Regions from separate parts of the Homo sapiens genome. Here region 2 is linked to region 1. The links come from fine-mapping of genetic effects on plasma protein levels. A gene starts in region 1. The other region holds a variant in brackets. All regions are shown on one strand. Distances are between the middles of the regions. Region 1 holds the start of HSPG2 (heparan sulfate proteoglycan 2). Region 2 overlaps CDC42 (cell division cycle 42).

The links. PIP is the posterior inclusion probability: the model's chance that the variant is causal. The UK Biobank Pharma Proteomics Project read protein levels with antibody pairs (Olink). The fine-mapping took linkage between variants from a reference panel, not from the people measured, so its PIPs are less certain.
Region 2: its variant is fine-mapped to the plasma level of the HSPG2 protein (UK Biobank, PIP 0.98).

The regions. Positions count from the first base shown.
Region 1 is chr1:21,934,502-21,942,501 of GRCh38, forward strand. It overlaps HSPG2 (heparan sulfate proteoglycan 2), which reads right to left and starts at 2,809. Exons shown (of 97, transcript NM_005529.7): 1 at 2,654-2,809. The coding sequence starts at 2,716. RefSeq lists an enhancer at 1,259-2,100 and a silencer at 2,848-3,197.
Region 2 is chr1:22,065,770-22,078,506 of GRCh38, forward strand. CDC42 (cell division cycle 42) reads left to right here. Exons shown (of 6, transcript NM_001791.4): 2 at 12,660-12,737. The coding sequence starts at 12,710. It also overlaps the pseudogene MPHOSPH6P1. Among named protein-coding and RNA genes, the nearest start is that of CDC42, 19 kb to the left of the region's middle. RefSeq lists a silencer at 12,086-12,165. The variant G/A (reference allele first, on the strand shown) is at 11,295.

The DNA.
Region 1 (8,000 bases):
CTTATGCCTGTCATCCCAACACTTTAGGAGACCGAGGCGAGAGGATCGCTTGAGGCCAGGAGTTTGAGACCAGCCTGGGCAACAAAGTGTGATGCCCTCTTTTTTTTTTTTTGAGACAGAGTCTTGCTCTGTCGCCCAGGCTGGAGTGCAGTGGCGCGATCTCGGCTCACTGCAAGCTCCGCCTCCCGGGTTAACGCCATTCTCCTGCCTCAGCCTCCGGAGTAGCTGGGACTACAGGTACGTGCCACCATGCCTGGCTAACTTTTTGCATTTTTAGTAGAGACAGGGTTTCACTATGCTGGCCAGGCTGATCTTGAACTCCTGACCTCATGATCCGCTCGCCTCGGCCTCCCAAAGTCCTGGGATTACTGGCGTGTGCCACCGCGCCTGGCCCCGAAAAACTTTTTATTGTTTGTTTGTTTTGAGGCGGAGTCTCACTCTGTCACCCAGGCTGGAGTGCAATGGTGTGGTCTCAGCTCACTGCAACCTCCGCCTCCTGGGTTCAAGCGATTCTCCTGCCTCAGCCTCCCGAGTAGTTGGGATTACAAGCATGCGCCACCACACCCGTCTAATTTTTGTATTTTCAGTACAGATGGGGTTTCACTATGTTGGCCAGGCTGGTCTCAAACTCCTGACCTCGTGATCCGCCCACCGTGGCCTCCCAAAGTGCTGGGATTACAGGCATGAGCCACCGCGCCTGGCCTGAAAAACTTTTTAAAAAGAATTTTATAAAGAGACTTCAGGGGCCAAGCTCTTTCCAGCCCACCACCAGCAGCCTGGGGTGGGACAGCGACCCTCCATGTGTTGCTGAGAAGGCTCTCTAATCCCACAGGATTGGAGCTGCCTGTTTATTTGTCTAAATTACCGCCCACCAGCCTGTGAGTGCTGGGAAGGCACAGACAGGGCCTGTCCTTGCTGGTCCAACCCACCCCAGCCCCTAGCACCACACGAGGTTCACTGGTTCACTGGCACACAGTAGGTGCATGGCAAATATCTGCCCAAAGAATGAACCTCTGTACTCCCAGTGACTGCCATGGAATGTCGCTCAGTGATGATCTGTTGAATGAACAAGTGAATGAGATGATCTGCCACGGTCCAGGAATGTCTGTGGAAATTCCTCATGCACACAGCAAACAACTCCACCCACCGCCATCCTACCGCACCCGGGCATGGAGGAGCCCCTCATCGGGGGCAGAGCTGGGGGAAGGTCAGGAAAGACTGTTGGGCCTCGGAAAACATCCCACGTGCTAGGTTGGTGCGTTGGGAAAAGTAAAAGTCAGTGCCAGGAGTGCAAGTTCAGGTCAAGACTAGGGAGCTACTGGATGGCCCTGCTGAATATTTTGGGGTGAGAGGCTGAAACAGGAGGACGACAGAGGAGGCTGCCCAGAGTGGGGATGGGGGAGGAGAAGTGCTGGGTGGGTGGGGCAAGAGCAGTGAGGAGCCAGGTCTGGGTGGGGGCTTGACGAGTGACTCAGGAGGGTAGAGGTGCGATGAAGCCAGGAAGGTGAGGCCAGGCAGGCAGTTCCTGGGTAAACACCAGCCTGGTTAGAAAAGTCCCTCTCTTGGCTCAGAGAACAGGGAGGCAGGTATGGGGACTGCCTAGGAGCACCTCGGAGAGAGTGGGGGTGGCTCTGTGGCTCCCCACGGTAGGCTCGGCTCCCCAGATGTGCCCCCACCCACATCTGCCACTAGCTCCCTGCCCACCGACCCCACCCAGTCCTCCTCAAGTTCACTCAGGTCCTCAGGGCCTCTGCTGGCCAAGTGCCTTCTAAGCCTCGGGATTCCTGACCGTAGAATTCCCTTTTCCTCCACCTAAGCTCAGAGTAGGGGACTAGACTGCAAGGGCAGGCCTCTCCCTGCCTCTTGGAGACCTGGGAAGAGGAAAGCTGGGGAACTCGGGTCCCCCAAGGGTGCACTGCATCCCCGCACCACGCACTTTGCAGCTCATTCCACGCAGTCCAGCAACGCCCTGCAGCTATGCATTTTGAGGCCGTGCATTTTGAGTTCCCTTGACCCACGTGGGGCTGGCCTCAGAGAGGTTAACTAGCGTGCCCCAGGTCACACAGTTACTCAGTGAAAGGCAGGGATTGATTCAACTCTTCGGCTGTATGACTCCAAGGCCCGTGGGTGTTCCACACAAGCTTCAGTTCTGTCCCAAAAGTTTTGCTTGTGCCTACCTGGGTCCAAGCTCCCCAAGGTGATAGACGGTGTGGTAAAGTTTCAGCGAGACTCATAGGGTCCCCATCACCACTGAGTGGCCGTTCTGCCAAGCTGGCGCAGAAGGGTTCCCTCGTCCTGCCAAGTTCCCACCCTGCTCAAAGTTTCCCCTCCTGGTCCCCAGGAATGGTAGGCCGGACCATGCCCAGCGAGACTCCAGCACTCGGCAACGTGGCCGAGAGACCCACGGGCTCCCACACGGGCCAGCCCCGCCCCCAGCCCCACGAAGGGTCCTGACTGGTGGCCCCCCTGGATTAGCCCCATGCCGCAGGGTGGCGCCGGCCCGGGGTCCCCGGCGGGCGCCGCCGTCCCGGGCCAGAGTCCCCGCCGCGCAGCCTTGGGCGCCCCAGCCAAGTTGGCGGGAGGCGGCGAGCGGGACCGGGGCGCCCCTAGCCCCTCCGCCCCCGCCCCCCGCCCCTCTGCCCCGCACACTCACCGCCAGCAGCCGCCCGTGCAGCAGCAGCGCCAGCAGCAGCGCGCCCGCCGCCCGCCACCCCATGGCCCGGCCCGCGCCGCTCTCTCGCTCGCTCGCTCCGCGCCGCCCGCTCCGCGCCGCCCGCAGCCGCCCGCTCGCCGGCCAGCTCGGGACAGCGCGGCCCTCTCCCCACCGCCCCCTTTCCTCCCCGCCCGCCCCGCCCCCGCAGCGCCGGCCCCGCCCCCGAACCGCCCCTCCCCGGAGCGCCAGGCCCCGCCCACGGACCGCCCCCGGGCCGCGGGCTCTGCTCGCCCCAGCCGGCCGCGCAGCCTACTAGGCCTTTGTCTGGGCCCCCAGCCCCCTCCGCGCGGGCCGCGGCCCGGCCCGGCTCCCCGCCAAACCCGGCCTGGAGTATGGGATGGGACGGGGCGGGGGACCGGGGGCCCGGGCCCGGGCATGGGATGGGGCCGCCGGGCCAGGCGCTCTCGCCTCCCCGATCCCCGGCTCCCCCGCTTCCCCGCGCGCGCCGCCGACTTCCACGCCCCTGCACGCCCCGCACGGCCGACTCCACTCGCGCAGCTTTTGAAGATCCCGGGATCTCCTTCCCACGCTCACACGCACGCAGCTGCCGCTCCGCGCCACACGTGCACGCCAACTTCCACACCCAAGAACACCTTCACACCATAACTTTACTGCACGAACACACTTGTGCGCTACCCGGGAACACTTTCACACTCTGGACCCAACTCTGAAGTACCAACAATCCTCACCGGCTCACATGCACACTTAACTCGCTTCCAAACTCTCACCTCCACCAGGGACACAGGAGACAGCCCTCACACCACACTCAGCCCCTCACTCACGCATACATCCCAACAAGTCACGGAGCGGGAGGACGCCTTTTCACATAGATTCCTCGCAGGCACGCACATTTCACACACAGGCCCACATCATTGCCTACATGCTTACCAGCTTGTTTTTTTTTTTTTTTTTTTTTTTGAGAAGGAGTCTCGCTCTGTCCCCAGGCTGGAGTGCGGTGGTGGGATCTTGGCTCACTGCAACCTCCGCCTCCGGGTTCAAGCAATTCTCCGGCCTCAGCCTCCTGAATAGCTGGGATTACAGGCGTGCCACCACGCCTGGCTAATTTTTGTATTTTTAATAGAGATGGGGTTTTTACCATGTTGGCCAGGCTGGTCTCGAACTCCTGACCTTGTGATCTGCCCGCCTTGCCCTCCCAAAGTGATGGGATTACAGGCATTGAGCCACCGCACCCAGCCTCAGCCTGTATCTTTTACCTGTTCTCACCCACTAATCACAGTGCCTCATAGTGGGCACTGGGTACTGAACTGAGCTGCCCACCCCACCTGCACCATTTTCCATGTAAATCACTCACACACCAACTTTGAGTCACATAAATCACAGCCCCAGAGCCAGAACCACACCAACTCACACACTCAGGCCCAGACAGACAGACCCTGCCAAAGCCCCATCACAGATGCTCGGGTGGGTGGTAAAATCACAGCCCCATGATCTGTCTCTGACCCAACCGCAGGCAGCAAACAGCACCAAGCCCCCAGACCTATTCACTGCCTACTCTTCAGCTCCCCTCTTCTGCCTGAAATTTCCAGGGCAGCCCGAGGCTGATGGGTGGAGAGGAAAACTATGTGTGTGTAGCTTTGAGGAAAACCTTTTGAGTAATGATAGAGGAGGAGAATAAAACTGAAGTTTCCATTGTTTCCTGTGAGAGTTGCTAGGTTCCAGAAACTCATGGCTGGGTTTGCAGCCAGGAGTGAGGTGAGCTGTGGACAGAAGGAAATGCCCAGCTCACTGGGCGGCACCAGGCCTGGCTCCGGAAGCTATGTTCCCTGTGATAGGGGTCCGCAGGCTCCCAAGCACATTGGGGCCTCTCATCCAGGCATCTGGGGGATTGAAAAAACACTGGCATCCTGACCCCCATCCCAGATAGATCCCCTATCTCCAAAAGATATCTCCAAAATATGCCCTGTGGGGCATATTTCTGTGGGACCAGCTCAGAGTTGTAAAGAACAGAAATTGCATCCACGGTAGTCAGGCCAACTGCCTGGCCCCAACCCAGGCTCCAGGCACAGCACTGAATAAGGTCTATCTCTGATCCGCACAGGGAGATAGGGGTGGACAGAGGAGGGACGCCCAATCTTGGCCCTCAGTAAACTCTTAATCTGATAGAGGTGTGGGGAAGAATAGTCCCTGTCCGGGTATTGTTCTCAGTCTGATAGAGAATCCTGCCTCCACCACCTAGCCGTGCAATCTTGAGCACATGATTCAACTTCCATGTCTCAGTCTCTGCATGTAGAAAATGAGAATAACGTTAAGACGTCTCTCTTAGTGTTGTTATGAGAATTAAGATAAATTAATATATTTCTTTTAAAAAACACAGCCATTTCAGACACTTGGTAAGCATGAAATAAGTGGTAGCCATTTCTCTTATTACTATTTCTGGTGTGCTCCCAATCTAAAGAGAGAGACATGACTTGGCCCTTGGGGAGCTGAGGTCTGATAGAGGAGCAGCCTCCACAGCCACCCCAGGGACCTCCCATTTGAGGGGAGAGTACACCAGGTTTGCACTTGGAAACTCCCTGTCCGATGAGAAAGGCTTCAAAACTCCACTGACTTCAGAGCTGGCAGGTGGCCAGCCCTAGTGGCAGGATTTTTCCAAGGCCTTGCCTGTCCATGGATTTGTCAGCATCCGTGACAAATCGCATTTCATGAGCTGCCTCAGTGTCTGTTCCCTACCTCGGGCCCTTTAAGTACCAGAGCTTTGGCTTCTTGGATGATTTGCTCATGAGCAAAGGGGGAAAAAAAGGGAAACAAGCAACCCTTTGTAGATGTTTGGTCAAGACTAACCCAGAGCTATAAGTCTTCCTTCCTCAAAGGGGTTGAGGAAAGAGATGGTAAGGCCGACTAGGGACTGGAAGGAGCTGGGCTGACACGCAGAAAGCAGGAATATATGGCATGTTGAGAAAGTCTTCCAGGGCGGCTCCAGCAGCGGAGGATTGGTCATCCACCTATTTATTCTGTGTCCTCTCCTTCCCACTAAGGGATTTGCCTGGGTCTGTTTTAGTTTGCAGTCCTTGATATCTTTAGCAAATGCTCTCAAGTTGCTTTGTCTAGAGCCTGGCTATCTCCTCATATGGCTAAGAAGAGGAGCAGGCACAAGGCCTTCTGGGCTTGGCAAAACCTTGGAGGCGCCCATAATCTCACTGTATGTACACAGAGTTCAGGGTGCTGGTCACACTCGAGGAGAGAAACAACTCAAGTCTCATACAAGGTTCCCTGGGCACGGAGAGACTACAACAGCTTGGATAGGCAGAAATAGTCAAACAGCTTGACTTCTGAGAATAGGTGTTGGGGGTTCTGGAACCAGCAGCTGGAGTTTGTGGCTTACCTGTCCACTCCTCCAAATTCAGTAGGACTCATCTTCTGGCTTCCACTCCCATTCCAAATCTTTTCTCTGCCTGAGAGCTTATCATTCATCTTAATCACATTCCTTTGTCCATTCATTCATTCATTCAGGGCTGCAGTGGACAGTTGCGCAGGTTGTTCACTGAACAAAGGTGTGCAGCCAAGTGGGTAAATAGGAACTGTAATGGGCCCTGTTGTGGGGCTACATCTGCCCAGAATGGGTACTTTTTTTTTTCTTTTTGAGACAGAATCTTGCTCTGTTGCCCAGGTTGGAGTGCAGTGGCACGATCTCAACTCACTGCAACCTCTGCCTCCTGGGTTCAAGCGATTCTCCTGCCTCAGCCTCCCAAGTAGCTGGGATTACAGGCACATGCCACCACACCTGGCTAATTTTTTGTATTTTTAGTAGAGACAGGGTTTCATCATGTTGGCCAGGCTGGTCTCGAACTCCTGACCTCAAGTGATCCACCCGTCTCGGCCTCCCAAAGTGCTGGGATTACAGGCGTGAGCCACTGCACCCGGCCCAGAATGGGTACTTTTTGCTGATATGAGTGAAGGCACTGTAAGGCTAGCTGTGGCCCTATATTCATTCAATAGTGAAACTAAACACTGCCCACGAGAGTTTCTATGTCCATGTGGGAAAACAAATGCTAATAGAGTAACAATATGTCCTTGGGTGAAAATGAAGAGTCAGAAATTGGTGTGAAAGAGAATTGAGATGGAGGAGAAAAAACAAGAAGATAGTACTGAAGAAGAGGAGGAAGAGGAGGCAGGAGGTGGGTCTAAGCAGGCAGCAAAAGTTCCCATGGAGAGGGCGGGGACCCCACAAGGCCTGGCATGATCTAGTCCTGCCCATCAATCCAGCCACAGCCCTTCCCCACCATAGTCTTTGCAGATGCTGTTCCCTCTCCTAAGTGCTTTTCCCAGTTAACACCCATCCCCCTTCACTCTACTCTCCCTTAAGATTGAGTCCAAACATCACATGACCACAGAAATCTTCTCTGACCTCCCAAGCGAGGTCGTGTTCCCCACCACACTTTCCCACAGCGCCCCCCCCGCCATGCTTTTCTTGTAGCATTTTTGACCATTGTAATTATTTGGAAGATCATTTAATATTATGAGGCATAATGAAGGCAGAGGGCATGAAGGTCTTGTTTCTGTCTTGGTCCCAATTATATCCCCTGTGAAGAGCACAGTGTGTGGCACAGAGTTGGCATTTGGATAATTGTTACTTAAATGAAAGAACAAGACATTAGTTCAAACGTGGCACACAGTGTAAATGTCCCTGTTCTGGTTTGTGCTTGGAACAAAGATAAACCCTGGGGAGCAGGCAAGGCAGTACATTTTATTATTCCCCTCCCTTTCCAGCTGGGAAAACTGAGGCCCAGGGGATGAAGTGGCTTGCCCAGGTCATGCAGTCAGTAAGAGGTAGAACCAGGATTCATGTCCATGTCGGTCTGATTCTACAAACTCCCATTCTCAACCACACCCATTCTGCCTCCCTGTGGGCTGTTCTCAACTCTGGCCAGGCACAAGTGCGCTTCTCCCAGCTCAGGCAGAAGCGTGAATCTTCTGAAAGCTCTTGTATTTGACCCCCTGCCCCAACTTGATGTTTCCCCACTACCCTTCATCATTATCAATTGCTTTCTTGGACTGGGGTCCCAGGCCCAAGGCAGGGTTCCCACACTGTGCCTCATGGGTCACCTGCAATCTGAGATGCTCTTTGAAAAAGAGGTTCTTTGGCCAAAGAAGTTTGGGTACCCTGCACTCTTTCCCACACTTTGACCACCTCAAGGGACACCAAAGCAGGAAGGGTTTTGAATAGGCCTCCAGTGAAGTCGCCTGTGCAACTGTGTTTAATCCAGCCTTCCTCAACCTCTTTGAGAACGGAACCCAGTGGTTTTTATGGAAAATCCTTTTAAAATCT
Region 2 (12,737 bases), 130 kb after region 1:
GGGGGGCGGGGGAGGGGTCAGAGTCTCTGTCAACCAGGCTGGAGTGCAGTGGCATGATCTCAGCTCACTGCAACCTCCTCCCGGGTTCAAGCGATTCTCAAGCCTCAGCCTCCCGAGTAGCTGGGATTACAGGTGTGCGCCACCATGCCTGGCTAATTTTTTGTAGTTTTAGCAGAGACGGGATTTCACCATGTTGGCTAGGCTTGTCTTGAGCTGCTGACCTCAAATAATTGACCCACCTTGGCCTCCCAAAGTGTTGGGATTACAGGCCTCTGTGCCTGGGCGTTTTTTTCATATTACTACTTTAGTCAACAAAGTTGTAAAAGACATTTAAGAATTTTATTTTTTCTTGCCCTTAATATACTGTTCAGTATTGTATTGGCTGCATTGGGACGGGGAATAAAGAAGTATAAGCCTAGTTGTTCTCTCAGAGAGCTTAAAATCTATTAGAGGGGCTGGGTGAGGTGAGGTGGTGCATGCTTGTAGTCTCAGCTACTTGGGAGGCTGAGGCAGGAGAATCGCTTGAGCGTGGGAGGCAGACGTTGCAGTAAGCTGAAATTGCGCCACTGTGCTGCAGCTTAGGTGACAGAGTGATACCCTGTCTCCAAAAAAAAAAATCTATTAGAATAAAGTAAGCATATGTGACTAAAAATAACATGGTTAATTACTCCTGTGATTCATTTATTCGGTGAGTGTGTCCTGTGTGACTGGTATTGAGCTATTTTGTGGGCATACAGCAGTTATTACCTTTATGGAGATTTCCTTATTTTTAAAAGTCTGTTTCTACTGCCATATGACAGATAAACAAGATAATTATAGATTATGACCTTACAATAAAGGAAATAAGGTAATATGAAAGGAGTGTAAGGAGGGAGGGTACTATTGCCCTGGATAATGTGGTCAGGGGAGGACTTTTGGAGGAGATGATGATTCGAGCTGAGATCTGGAGAGTGAGAAGCCAAAAGCTTTAAGAGCAGGGGCAGGAGTGTTGTTGGTAAAGACTTCAAGGCATGGCCGGGTGCAGTGGCTCACACCTGTAATTCCAGAACTTTGGGAGGCCGAGGTGGGCGGATCACCTGAGGTTGGGAGTTTGAGACCAGCTTGACCAACATGGAGAAACCCCGTCTCTACTAAAAATACAAAATTAGCCGGGTGTGGTGGCACATGCCTGTAATTCCAGCTACTCAGGAAGTTGAGGCTGGAAAATCGCTTGAACCTGGGAGGCGGAGGTTGTGGTGAGCAGAGATTGGGCCAAAAAAGACCTGAAGGCAGGACAGAGCCTGGCACGTCTGGGGAGGTAAGAGACCTGTGTAGCTAGAGCATGGAGAGTACAGGGGAACGGAGCATGAGAAGGTTTGAGAAGGCAAGAAGAAGGGCCTTGCCATGGGTTCTGTTTAGTCCGTTTAGGCTTCTTTAACAATACCATAGACTGGGTAGCTTGTAAACGACAGAAACTTATCACAGTTCTGCATCCTGGGAAGGACAATATTGGGGTGCTGGCGTATTTGATGTTTGGTGAGGGCCTGCTTTGTGGTTCATAGATGCTGGTTTTTTCTTTTCTTCTTTTTCTTTTTTTGACGGTCTCACTCTGTTTCCCAGGCTGGAGTGCAGTGGTGATCTTAGCTCACTCCCACCTCCGCCTCCCAAGTTCGCTTTGGTGCTCTCAGCTCACTGCAACCTCTACCTCCCAAGCAAGCGATCCTCCTGAGTAGCTGGGGTTACAGGCATGCGCCACCGGCTAATTTTTGTATTTTTAGTGGAGACAGGGTTTCACCAAGTTGGCCAGGCTGGTCTCGAACGCCTGACCTCAGATGATCCGCCTGCCTCGGCCTCTCAATGTGCTGGGTTTACAGGCCTGAGCCACTGCGCCCATACCAGTTTGTTCCTTTTTGCTGTGTCTTCTTGCATGGTGCAAGGGGTAGGGGAGCTCTCTGGGGTGTCTTATAAGGCCACTAATCCCATTTGGGGATGAGGGGACTCTGCCCTCTGGACCTAATCACCTCCCAGCAGTCTCACCTTCTAACAACGTCACACTGGTGATCAGGTGTCAGCTTATGAATTTTGGGACACAAACATAGCAGGTGGTCAGGCGGTTGGGGCAGTTTCAATACCTAGACTAGTTAGGAAAGGTCTCAGAGAAGGAGAGGTTTTGTAGTGGAAGGGTAGCTTGAAAATAGGGTGAGTTGTAAGGCCAGACACCCAAGATTTGGCTGAGATGGGAGGATCCCTTGAGCCCAGGAAGGTTGACGCTGCAGTGAGCTGTGATTGAGCCACTCCACTCTGGCCTAGGTGACAGGGTGAGACCCTGTCTCAAAAACAAAAAAAATCTTTAGGAAACCTGTATATTTGAAGATCAAGGGCTAAAAATCCACTCAGTACCATTTAGCAGAGGATGTATGACATCCATTACACATCTGTTTCAAAAACAGCATGTTTCCAAAATTATACATCTCTTTACAAATAAACGTTATAGTATTAATAACTATAGAGGCACCATCAGAACTAGTTACAAAACATGCTGCTAACTTTCACAAGGCATCTCTGAGCCATCTCTTAAGTTCTGTATTTTGATCCCGGGGCTTTAAGAACATTTTCTTTGCTTTAATTAGTTGTAGGTCTCCATTTTCATTGTCTTCATAATTGGCTTGATCTCCCTTTTTGGCAGACTTTTTTCCTGTTGTCCCCACCAAGGTCTCATATTCTAGCCATTTCTTCTAGCCATTTCTTCTTCATCTGACACGTAAAATTCCACTGTTTCATCTTCAATTTCTGCTTTGTTCTTAGTATTCACCTGAAGCACTAATTTCTCAACCTCAGGAGTAAATCTGATGAATGAAATTCCTTCCATAGAAATGATCTTCACATAACAAGAGATGCTGCTCTTCTGTTATGAAATTCTTTACTTATTAAGCTCTGGCAAATCTGAGTACCAGTGCTCTTAACTAATTTTATTTTCTTCCTCTTCTAGTCATTTCTTAGTTTCTGAGTCCAGTCTTCTTTGCATGAACTTCATGTACAGCAGGTTCTTGGAGAACTTGGTCTTGTGCTCAGGTGCCATGCTGGCTTCAGCTTGTGCTGTGTTCTGGCCACCTGCTGTTTCTTAGTTAAGAGACTAGAATGAGAAAGTTACATGTAAGGATGTCAGTTGGTAGTATTATTGAAGGAAGAATATGTAGGGGGTGATGCTTGTTTATTGTCTGTGTACCCCACTGGAATTGTTGCTCCAAGAGGGCGTGAACTTTGTTATGTGAATTGTGGGGTGTGCCTACGTATAGGACAAAGCTTGGCACGTGGTAGGTACTTAGTAAAGGCTTGTTGAATGAATGAGTAGATGAATGAGTAGATCTACAAGTCTTGAGTATTTTGAGGAAAACATCTTATTGTAATCTCCATTTTATTCCTTTTTTTTTTTTTTTTTTTTTTTTGAGACAGAATCTCACTCTGTCCCCAGGCTGGAGTGCAGTGGCACAATCACGGCTCATTGCAACCTCTGCCTCCTGGGTTCAAGCAATTCTCCTGCCTCACCCTCCCAAATAGCTGGGACTACAGGTGAGCGCCATCACACCTGGCAAATTTTTGTATTTTTGGTAGAGACTGGGTTTCACCATGTTGGCCAGATTGGTCTCGAACTCCTGACCTCAAGTGATCTGCCCGCCTCAGCTTCCCAAAGTGCTGGGATTATAGGCGTGAGCCACCACGCTTGGCCGAAACAGGGTCTTGTTCTCTTACCCAGGCTGGAGTGCAGTGGTGTGACTACAGCTCACTGTAGCCTTGACCTTCCTGGCTCAGGTGGTTTCTCCCCTCAGCCTCCCCAGTAGTTGGGACTACAGGCACATGCCACCACTTTTTTTTTTTTTTTTTTTTTTTTTTAATTTTTTGTAGAGATGGGATTTTGTCATGTTGCCCAAGCTGGTCTTGATTTGCTGGGCTCAAGTGATCCTCCTGCCTTGGCCTCCCAAAGTGTTGGGATTACAGGCGTGAGCCGCCACACCCAGCCTTGGTAGAGGTTTTTTTGTTTGTTTGTTTTTGTTGTTGTTGTTTTGAGATAGCATCTCCCTGTGTTGCCCAGGCTGGAGTGCAGTGGCATAATCTTGGCTTACTTGCAACCTCCGTCTCCTGGGCTCGGATGATCTTCAGCCTCCCAAGTAGCTGGGACCACAGGCGCATGCCACCATGCCCAGCTAATTTTTGTATTTTTGGTAGAGACGCAGTTTTGCCACGTTGCCTAGGTTGTTCTCAAACTCCTGGCCTCAAGCAATCCACCTTCCTTGGCTTCTCAAAGTGCTGGGATTGTAGGCTTGAGCCACTGTGCCCAGCCTCTGGGTAGGATTTTCTAAGCAATGTTGTATTCTTAATTGAACATGTAAAAAGTAAAGTAGAGATTCCTCTTCAAAGACTTCCCCCACATCTAATCAGAAATAAATAGTAACTTCTCTTAAAAGCAAAATTTATTCAAAGACCTTTGCTAACATTCTTAAATATCTGCTAGCTGTAATAAATAAATCAGTGTACTTTATGTTCTTAGCTCCCACAATTTAGCCTAAATATTTGCCCTGGCATGCTTATACTGGTCCAAGCAAGCATTAGGTCATAGCCTGTTTAAAGGTATTTTTACCTTTCTCAGCATTCCACAAGTTACTTCCTCCTTCCTTTGTTGTCCTCTGCCTTTGCCTCTTTTTTTTTTTTTTTTTTTTTTTTTTTTTTTTTTTTTTGAGACAGAGTCTCGCTCTGTTGCTCAGGCTGGAGTGCAGTGGCATGATCTTGGCTCACTACAAGCTCCGCCTCCTAGGTTCATGCCATTCTCCTGCCTCAGCCTCCCAGGTAGCTGGGACTACAGGCGTCCACCACCACGCCCAGCTGATTTTTTTGTATTTTTAACAGAGGCAGGGTTTCACTGTGTTAGCCAGGCTGGTCTTGATCTCTTGACCTCGTGATCCGCCTGCCTCGGCCTTCCAAAATGCTGGGATTACAGGCGTGAGCCACCACGCCTGGCCTTCTTTGCCTCTTTTTAAAAGTTGTAAGTTGCTAGCCTATCAGGACAAATACAAAACGTGAGGTCCCGTTCCAGCCAATAAAAACCGGACACAGCAGTAGGATAGACACGTCAGGTTATAAATGACCCTGTCTCCTTTGCTCGGTGTACTTTTGTGGCAAAACTGCTGGCAAGTGTATCCTTTCTGCAGAAGGTATAAATGGCCTTGCTGAGAAAATTAAATTTATGTTCAAGTGCTATTTCTTTACGGCACTGAGGAACAAGCATTTCTTTTTTTTTCTTTCTTTTTTTTTTTTTTTGAGATGGAGTCTCGCTCTGTTGCCCAGGCTGGAGTGCAGTGGCGCGGTCTCGGCTCACTGCAAGCTCTGCCTCACGGGTTCACGCCATTCTCCTGCCTCAGCCTCCCGAGTAGCTGGGACTACAGGCGCCTGCCACCACGCCCGGCTAATTTTTTTGTATTTTTAGTAGCGTCGGGGTTTCACCATGTTAGCCAGGATGGTCTCGATCTCCTGACCTCGTGATCCATCCGCCTCGGCCTCCCAAAGTGCTGGGATTACAGGTGTGAGCCACCGCACCCGGTCGGAACAAGCATTTCTAACAAACATATAAGGCCAGCTGTATGCTTTTTGTTACATGTCTTCTGTGATATAGAAGCAAACAAGAAGTTCTGCAAACAAGACAGTTTGTTAGCACACTTGCATACGTGTGTGAATGCATGGAATACATTGCTGTGGTTTGAGTACTTTTGGTTGCCTAAAAATCACATGCATGGGTAGGTGTTTAAAAAATTGTACGTTAGATATGCTACTATAACTTACAGCAGAAGGTTATATAAGCTGCATTTTCCAAAGTGGCTGGATTTGACAGGAGAGACAAGTAGTTTTGATTTTATTCTGTTTAATCCTACAACCAGACTAGTCCTTCTGTTGAACTGATAAGGAAGATTGTGAAATTGGGTCATTCTCTTGATTCCTGTAGTGCCTCTTCTTTCTTGTATCCTAAGTATGAAAATGGGTTACTTCAGGGGCAAACGTATTTCACATGAAGGCAACTTTACTTTTAGTGTGTTTTGGATTAGAGTGAATGTGGTGTCAGAAAAAGAAAATTCAGTTCTGATACTAACAGTTTAATTCTGATACTCCCACCCCACAGCTTAAGGGCTCAGTCTTGGAAGACTGCCCTCACTTTAGGCAGCAGCTACAAATGCAGTGCCTAGGCTACCTATACCTCTGCCCAGTAGACTACAAATTTTGGGATTCCCATGGCCCTTCTTAGGTTTGATTATTAGCTAGAACAACTCATAGAACTCAGGAAAACGTTTTACTTACCTTTTTTTTTTTTTTTTTTTTTTTTGGGATGGAGTCTCGCTCTGTTGCCCAGGCTGGAGTACAGTGGCGTGATCTCAGCTCACTGCAAGCTCTGCCTCCCAGGTTCATGCCATTCTCCTGCCTCAGCCTCCCGAGTAGCTGGAACTACAGGCGCCTGCCACCACGCCTGGCTAATTTTTTGTATTTTTAGTAGAGTCGGGGTTTCGCCATGTTAGCCAGAATGGTCTCGATCTCCTGACCTCATGATCTGCCCGCCTCGGCCTCCCAAAGTGCTGGGATTACAGGCTTGAACCACCGTGCCTGGCCGTTTTACTTACCTTTATGCCTTTGTCATAAAGGGTACAACTCACGAACAGCCAAATGGAAGAGATACATAGGGCACGGTTGTGGGTGGGGAGGGATTCAGGTGACCTGCTTTCCCCTCACCTTGAAATGTTCACAGACCTGGAAGCTCTCCAAATCTTCTGTTCTGGAGTTTTCATAGAGCTCAGTTTCTAGCCCTCCTCCCCTCTCTGGAGGTTGGTGCATGGGGCTGAAAGTTACATCCCTCTAGTCACTTTGCCTTTCTGGTGACCAGCCCCATCCTGAGGCTTCCTAGCATCCCTTCCACCGCCACCCTGTCACTTTATTAACATAAATTCAGGTGTGAATTTGTTATGAAAAACAAGAGACACTCAGCACTCAGGAAATTCCTAGGGTTTTTAGGAGCTCTCTGCTAGGAAGTGGGGACGGAAACCAAATATTGCCAAATATTTGGTGTATTACCAAAAATTTGACTTGCCTTTTATTCACAGTTACTATTAATACTTGACATAGTTTTAAAAGAGGTGTAATCTTATTGAGAATATAAATTTTTTGTAAAACTTACTAGCAAATATTTAATCTCAAATCTTAAGGTTGCTGTCTCTCTGTGCCTAGAATGAACCATGGGGCACGGGAAAATAGGGCATTTGTAGCTGGGAGTATCCCCTTCCTCCATACAGATCGTTTGCTCAGGGATTGTCTGGTGGAGTTTAGATGGCAGCCAGCCAATCATAATGATACCATAGAGAGGGTTCCATAACCTTTTAAAATCTGTAGTGTGTGGACTTAAAATTTCAGGTGCTATAGCTCTGAGATTCTTAAAGGATATTTGAATTCCCATAGTGTTAAGAACCTGGAAGAGGCCAGGTGCAATGGCTCGTGCCTGTAATCCCAGCACTTTGGGAGGCTGAGGTGGGTGGATCACCTGAGGTCAGGATTTTGAGACCAGCCTGGCCAATGTGGCGAAACCCCGTCTCTACTAAAAAAATACAAAAATTAGCCAGACATGGTGGTGCGTGCCTGTAATCCCAGCTACTTGGGAGGCTGAGGTGGGAGAATCGCTTGAACCCTGGAGGCGGAGGTTGCAGTGAGCCGAGATCACGCCATTGCACTCCAGCCTGGGTGACAGAGCAAAACTCTGTCTCAAAAAAAAAAAAAGAAAAATAAAAAACCTAGAAGATATGGGTATTGGAGGGGTAGATGCCAGGAAGGACAGAAGGAAGATATACCTTATTTCACAATTTTATTTCCTTATGATTGGCAGAATCATTTTAAAAAAAATATTTGAGACAGGGTCTTGCTCTGTCATCCAGCCTGGAGGGCAGTGGCACAATCATAGCCAACTGCAGCCTTGGACTCAAGCAATCCTCCCACCTCAGCCTCCCTGGTAACTGGGACTACAGGTGTGTGCCACTTCACCCAGCTAATTTTTTTTTTTGTAGAGATGGGGTCTCACTCTGTTTCCCAGGCTGGTCCCAAACTCCTGGGTTCAAGCAATCTCCCCACCTTGTCCCCCCAAAGTGCTGGGATTACAGGTGTGAGCCACCATGCCTGACCCTGCAGAATCATTTTTTATGCTGTAAGTTGCCCAACCCCAATTCTAAGTTGTGGTACAAATGAACTTCACTGTTAAAAAGAGGTAGGATTCAGTTATTGGTGCAAAATAACTTAGCTTTTCTTTTTCTTTCTTCTTTTTTGAGACGGAGTCTCACTGTGTTGCCCAGGCTGGAGTGCAGTGGCGCCATCTTGGCTCACTGCAGTGCGCCTCTGCCCCCCGAGTTCAAGCGATTCTCCTGCCTCAGGCTCCTGAGTAGCTGGGACTACAGGTGCGTGCCACCATGCCCAGCTAATTTTTTGTATTTTTAGTAGAGATGGGGTTTCACCGTGTTAGCCAGAATGGTCTCCATCTCCTGACCTTGTGATCTGCCTGCCTCGGCCTCCCAGAGTGCTGGGATTACAGGCATGAGGCACCGTGCCCAGCGCAGAATAACTTTTCTGGTTAGCAGAATGGTAATTGTTTCTATGTGGCCTCTTTGCTGCCGTAGTGATTTGACATTATTTAATAGGAGATTAACATAGGGTATATGAACATGTCTGACTTATATATATTGTAAAACCCAAAGTCTCTCCCCTGATTGCTCCCTTTACCCACCCCAATCTGTGGAGTATCTGGTGACATTAAGAAAAAAAATTAAGAAAAAAAGAAATAGAGGTCAGGTCTTAACTATGTTGCCCAGGCTGGTCTTGAACTCCTCAGCTCTAGTGATCTTCCCACTTTGGCCTCCCAAAGTGCAAGGATTACAGGTGAGCCACTGTGCTCTTTAATACATGTGTTAAAGGGCAAAACTACAACAAATTTAAATCTCACTTGGCTTTATTGTGATTTTAGAGTTGGGCAGTGTGCTTCATTCCACAAAACAGAGTTGAGCAGAAGAGGTTGGCTTAATAGAAGAGCTGAGGAAAGGGGAAGCAAAGAACAAAGGGCCTATTAGTTGTTTCAGAGCTACCTTTCTTGTAAGGCAGGGACAGGGAGAAGACAGAACAATAGAAAAATAACTGATTAGTTAATATCAGGTTACTTCAGGCTGCTTTTTTTTGTGTAAGGGTTAAAGCAGAGGGAACTTCATTATCATTCCAATTGAAGATTGAAAGTGGCCTGTTTGGTAAACTGGCTGTCATCTCTCCTGTTTCTCAGAAGGTCAGATAACAACTAAATTTAAGTTTAGTGATGTGAAACTTTAGCATGAGTAACTCCGTTTTGATTTTTAGTCTGGTCACTTGGGGCCTAGTGCAGGAGATTAGTCCACAACGGTAGCCTCCTATAGTTTTTATTTAACACATGAAACAATTATTAATACATGCCAAATGCTTTGCAGAATAGTCTTAATTAGAACTTGACTCTGAAATGACCATCTTTGTAATGGTAACTCTACATTTGACTACATTTGTGCTGAGAACAATTAGTATAATCTTCCCTTGATATTGCAGGGGATTGATTCCAGAACTCTCCAAGGATACAACAATCCTGGAATGCTCAAGTTTCTTATATAAAATTACATAGTACAGTTATCCATCTGTATCTGTGGGTTCTGCCTCTGTGTACATGGAGGGCTGACTGTACTGTAATTATCTTGGAGATAAAAAGTGTTATGAGTTCCTTTCTAAGAAGTTTGGAATTGCTGTTTTAAAATTCCTTATATTGACTTTAAAGTTACCATTACTTGTTAAAGACTAATAATTAACATGTACTAAGCATGTACTGTATGCCAAGCACTGTTGCAAGTTCTTTACATGTATTATCTTAGTTTACCTTATGAGAAAGGTAGTACTGTTTTCATTTTTAGAGAAGGGGAAACCAAGCTACACAGAGGTTGAATAACACAGAGGTTGAATAGCTAGAGTGTGGTAGAGCCACTCTGACTCCAGAACCCAGGCTTAACAGGGGACTCACAACCAACCAGTTTGTAACAAATTGCAGAGCAGTCAGGTCGGGAAGTCTAAGAAGTGGAAGATTTGTGGGTAAATAGAAAGGGGAAGAACAAACTCTTATCTTACTCCCTTCTCCCAATAAAATTCAGTAGTTATATGCAGGGTGAAAAACAGGAAATAAGCTTAGCCCCTATTTTTTGCTTCCTCTTCTTTATATTTGCTTTCCTCTTTGCATTGCTGGTAACTCACGGATATATACTTGTCATTCCACTAGCACTGATTATATTTGTTTTTATTAATGTCACTTCTCAGACAGTATAGTGTAATGTAATGTTTATCAAGAGCAGGGACTTGAGGTTGGGCACGGTGGCTCACACCTGTAATCCTAGCACTTTGAGGGGCCCAGGCAGTTGGATTACTTGAGGTCAGGAGTTCAAGACCAGCCTGGCCAACATGGTGAAACCCTGTCTCTATTAAATACAAACATTATCCAGGCGTGGTGGCATGCACCTGTAATCCCAGTTGCTCTGGAGGCTGAGGCAGGATAATCGCTTGAACCCGGGAGGCAGAGGTTGCAGTGAGCAGAGATCACGCCACTGCACTGACACATACACACACACACACACACAACAAGCAGGGACTTGAGAGTCAGACTGCTTGGGTTTAAATTACAGTTCTCCCAGTTACTGGCTGAATAGCCTTGGCTTAGTTACTTGCTGAGCCTCACTCTTCTTATCTGTAAAATAGGGATAATACAGCACATACTTCATAGGCTTTTTGGGAGGATGAAATGTGTGAATATGTGTAATATGTTTTGAACAGTACATAGCACTTAGTAAATGCTGTATGAGTGTTTGCTGCTTACTATTATTATTTGAGTGCTTTTAGATTTAACCAGTAATTGATTGATCTTAGGGATCAGGGTTGTTAATCTTTAATGCTGTATTAGTTAGTATGGGTGCTTCTTAGTGCATAAAAGGGAAAGGAGAAGGAAAAAGGAGATATAAAAGGAAGTTGAATAAAGAAGGATAAATATGGCTGGCTGCGGTGGCTCATGCATGTAATCCCAGCACTCTGGGACTTTGGGAGGCCGAGGTGAGTGGATTGCTTGAGTCCAGGAATTCAAGACCAGCCTGGGTAACAGTGAGACCCGTCTCTTAAAAAAACAAAAACCAAACAAAAACCCAGCCGGGCATGGTGGCATGCGTCTGTGGTTCCAGCTACTTGGGAGGCCAAGGTGG[G/A]AGGATTGCTTGAGTCTGGGAGGTGGAGGTTGCAGTGAGCTGAGGTTGTGCCACTGCACTCCAGCCTGGGTGACGGGAGTAAAACCCTGTCTAAAAAAAAGAAAAATATACTGCAGATAATTTTGATGAGGAGCGGGAGAGTGTATATTTCATGTGAGTTACTCACACTAATGTAGTTTCATGTTCTTTTGTTTCGTGATTTTTGCATCCAATCAACAACTCACAGTGTGTCAGTCTAGAAGTGCTCAGTGCTAGAAGTATAGTGGTGCATGAGGTAGTATAGGTTCATTTACAGGGATGTTAATAGGCATTTATAAATTGTTATGATTAATTGTTGTGAATGGTGCTATAGGAGCATGGTGGCATCTGACCAAGAGTTAGGTGGTTCTGTATTTTTATGTTTAATTATAACCCCTTTAGGATTATAATTTAAATTAATTTAAATATAAATCTTAAAATTTAGGTACATATTGGGTGGTGTTTCTTTTTATTCTTTCAGAAAACTGTTAAAGTATTTCATTGAATCTAAGATTCCAATTTCATAGAAGTCAAAATGTGGGGGAAAAATGGCTGATAATGATTCTAAGAGACTCAAAGATACATTCTGACTTTAGAGATGTTAACATGAAAAAAAGCATCTCAAATTAATGACTCTTTGGTACTTGTAATTGATAGCTTCTTAAAATGGAGGAGGACTCTAGTAAGAGAAGCTATAGTATCTGTTTATAAGTCAGTATGCTTTAGAGCAATCTGACTTTTTCATTATAAAAATGTAGGTTTTGGACTAGGCATTCTGGTGCTAAAACAGCTGCTGAGGCCAGCGATCACCCTGTTCTTTGTTCAGTTCCTCACGTTACTCATATAATTACCGTGTGATCGTGTGGTGCTCTGCTGCTTGTTGGTCAGAGCCTGAGTAAGGCTGAATAAGGCTGGATCATGAACCATTCTTTAAAGCAGTGGCCTTTGTATTGCAGTCTAGTTGACATACATGCATACATACAGGTGTGTGTGCACGTGTAACTGAAGAACAGCTTTCACAAAATAATATTTAGCACACTGTGGAATTTTCTCTGATACAGCCTCTTCTCTTTCATGATAAAAATAAATTCGCTGATTATCACACCACTTTGGACCTTTTAAAAATAACACTTAAGAAGTTGGAATAGCCAGGGATCAGAAACTTAGAAATGGACCTTATTTGTTATTGTAACTTATAGCAAGTCATTGTGTCTCTTATTGGGTTCTTTTAGCCATAATAATTGTGCTAGTTCTTTTCTTGCTCTGAGTGCCTGAACCTGTTGCTAAGTGAGGAAGAAAAATCCATATGTAAGTATAAATAAACAAATGTCTTTAATCTTTTTGCAGGTCATCATCAGATTTGAAATATTTAAAGTGGATACAAAACTATTTCAGCAATGCAGACAATTAAGTGTGTTGTTGTGG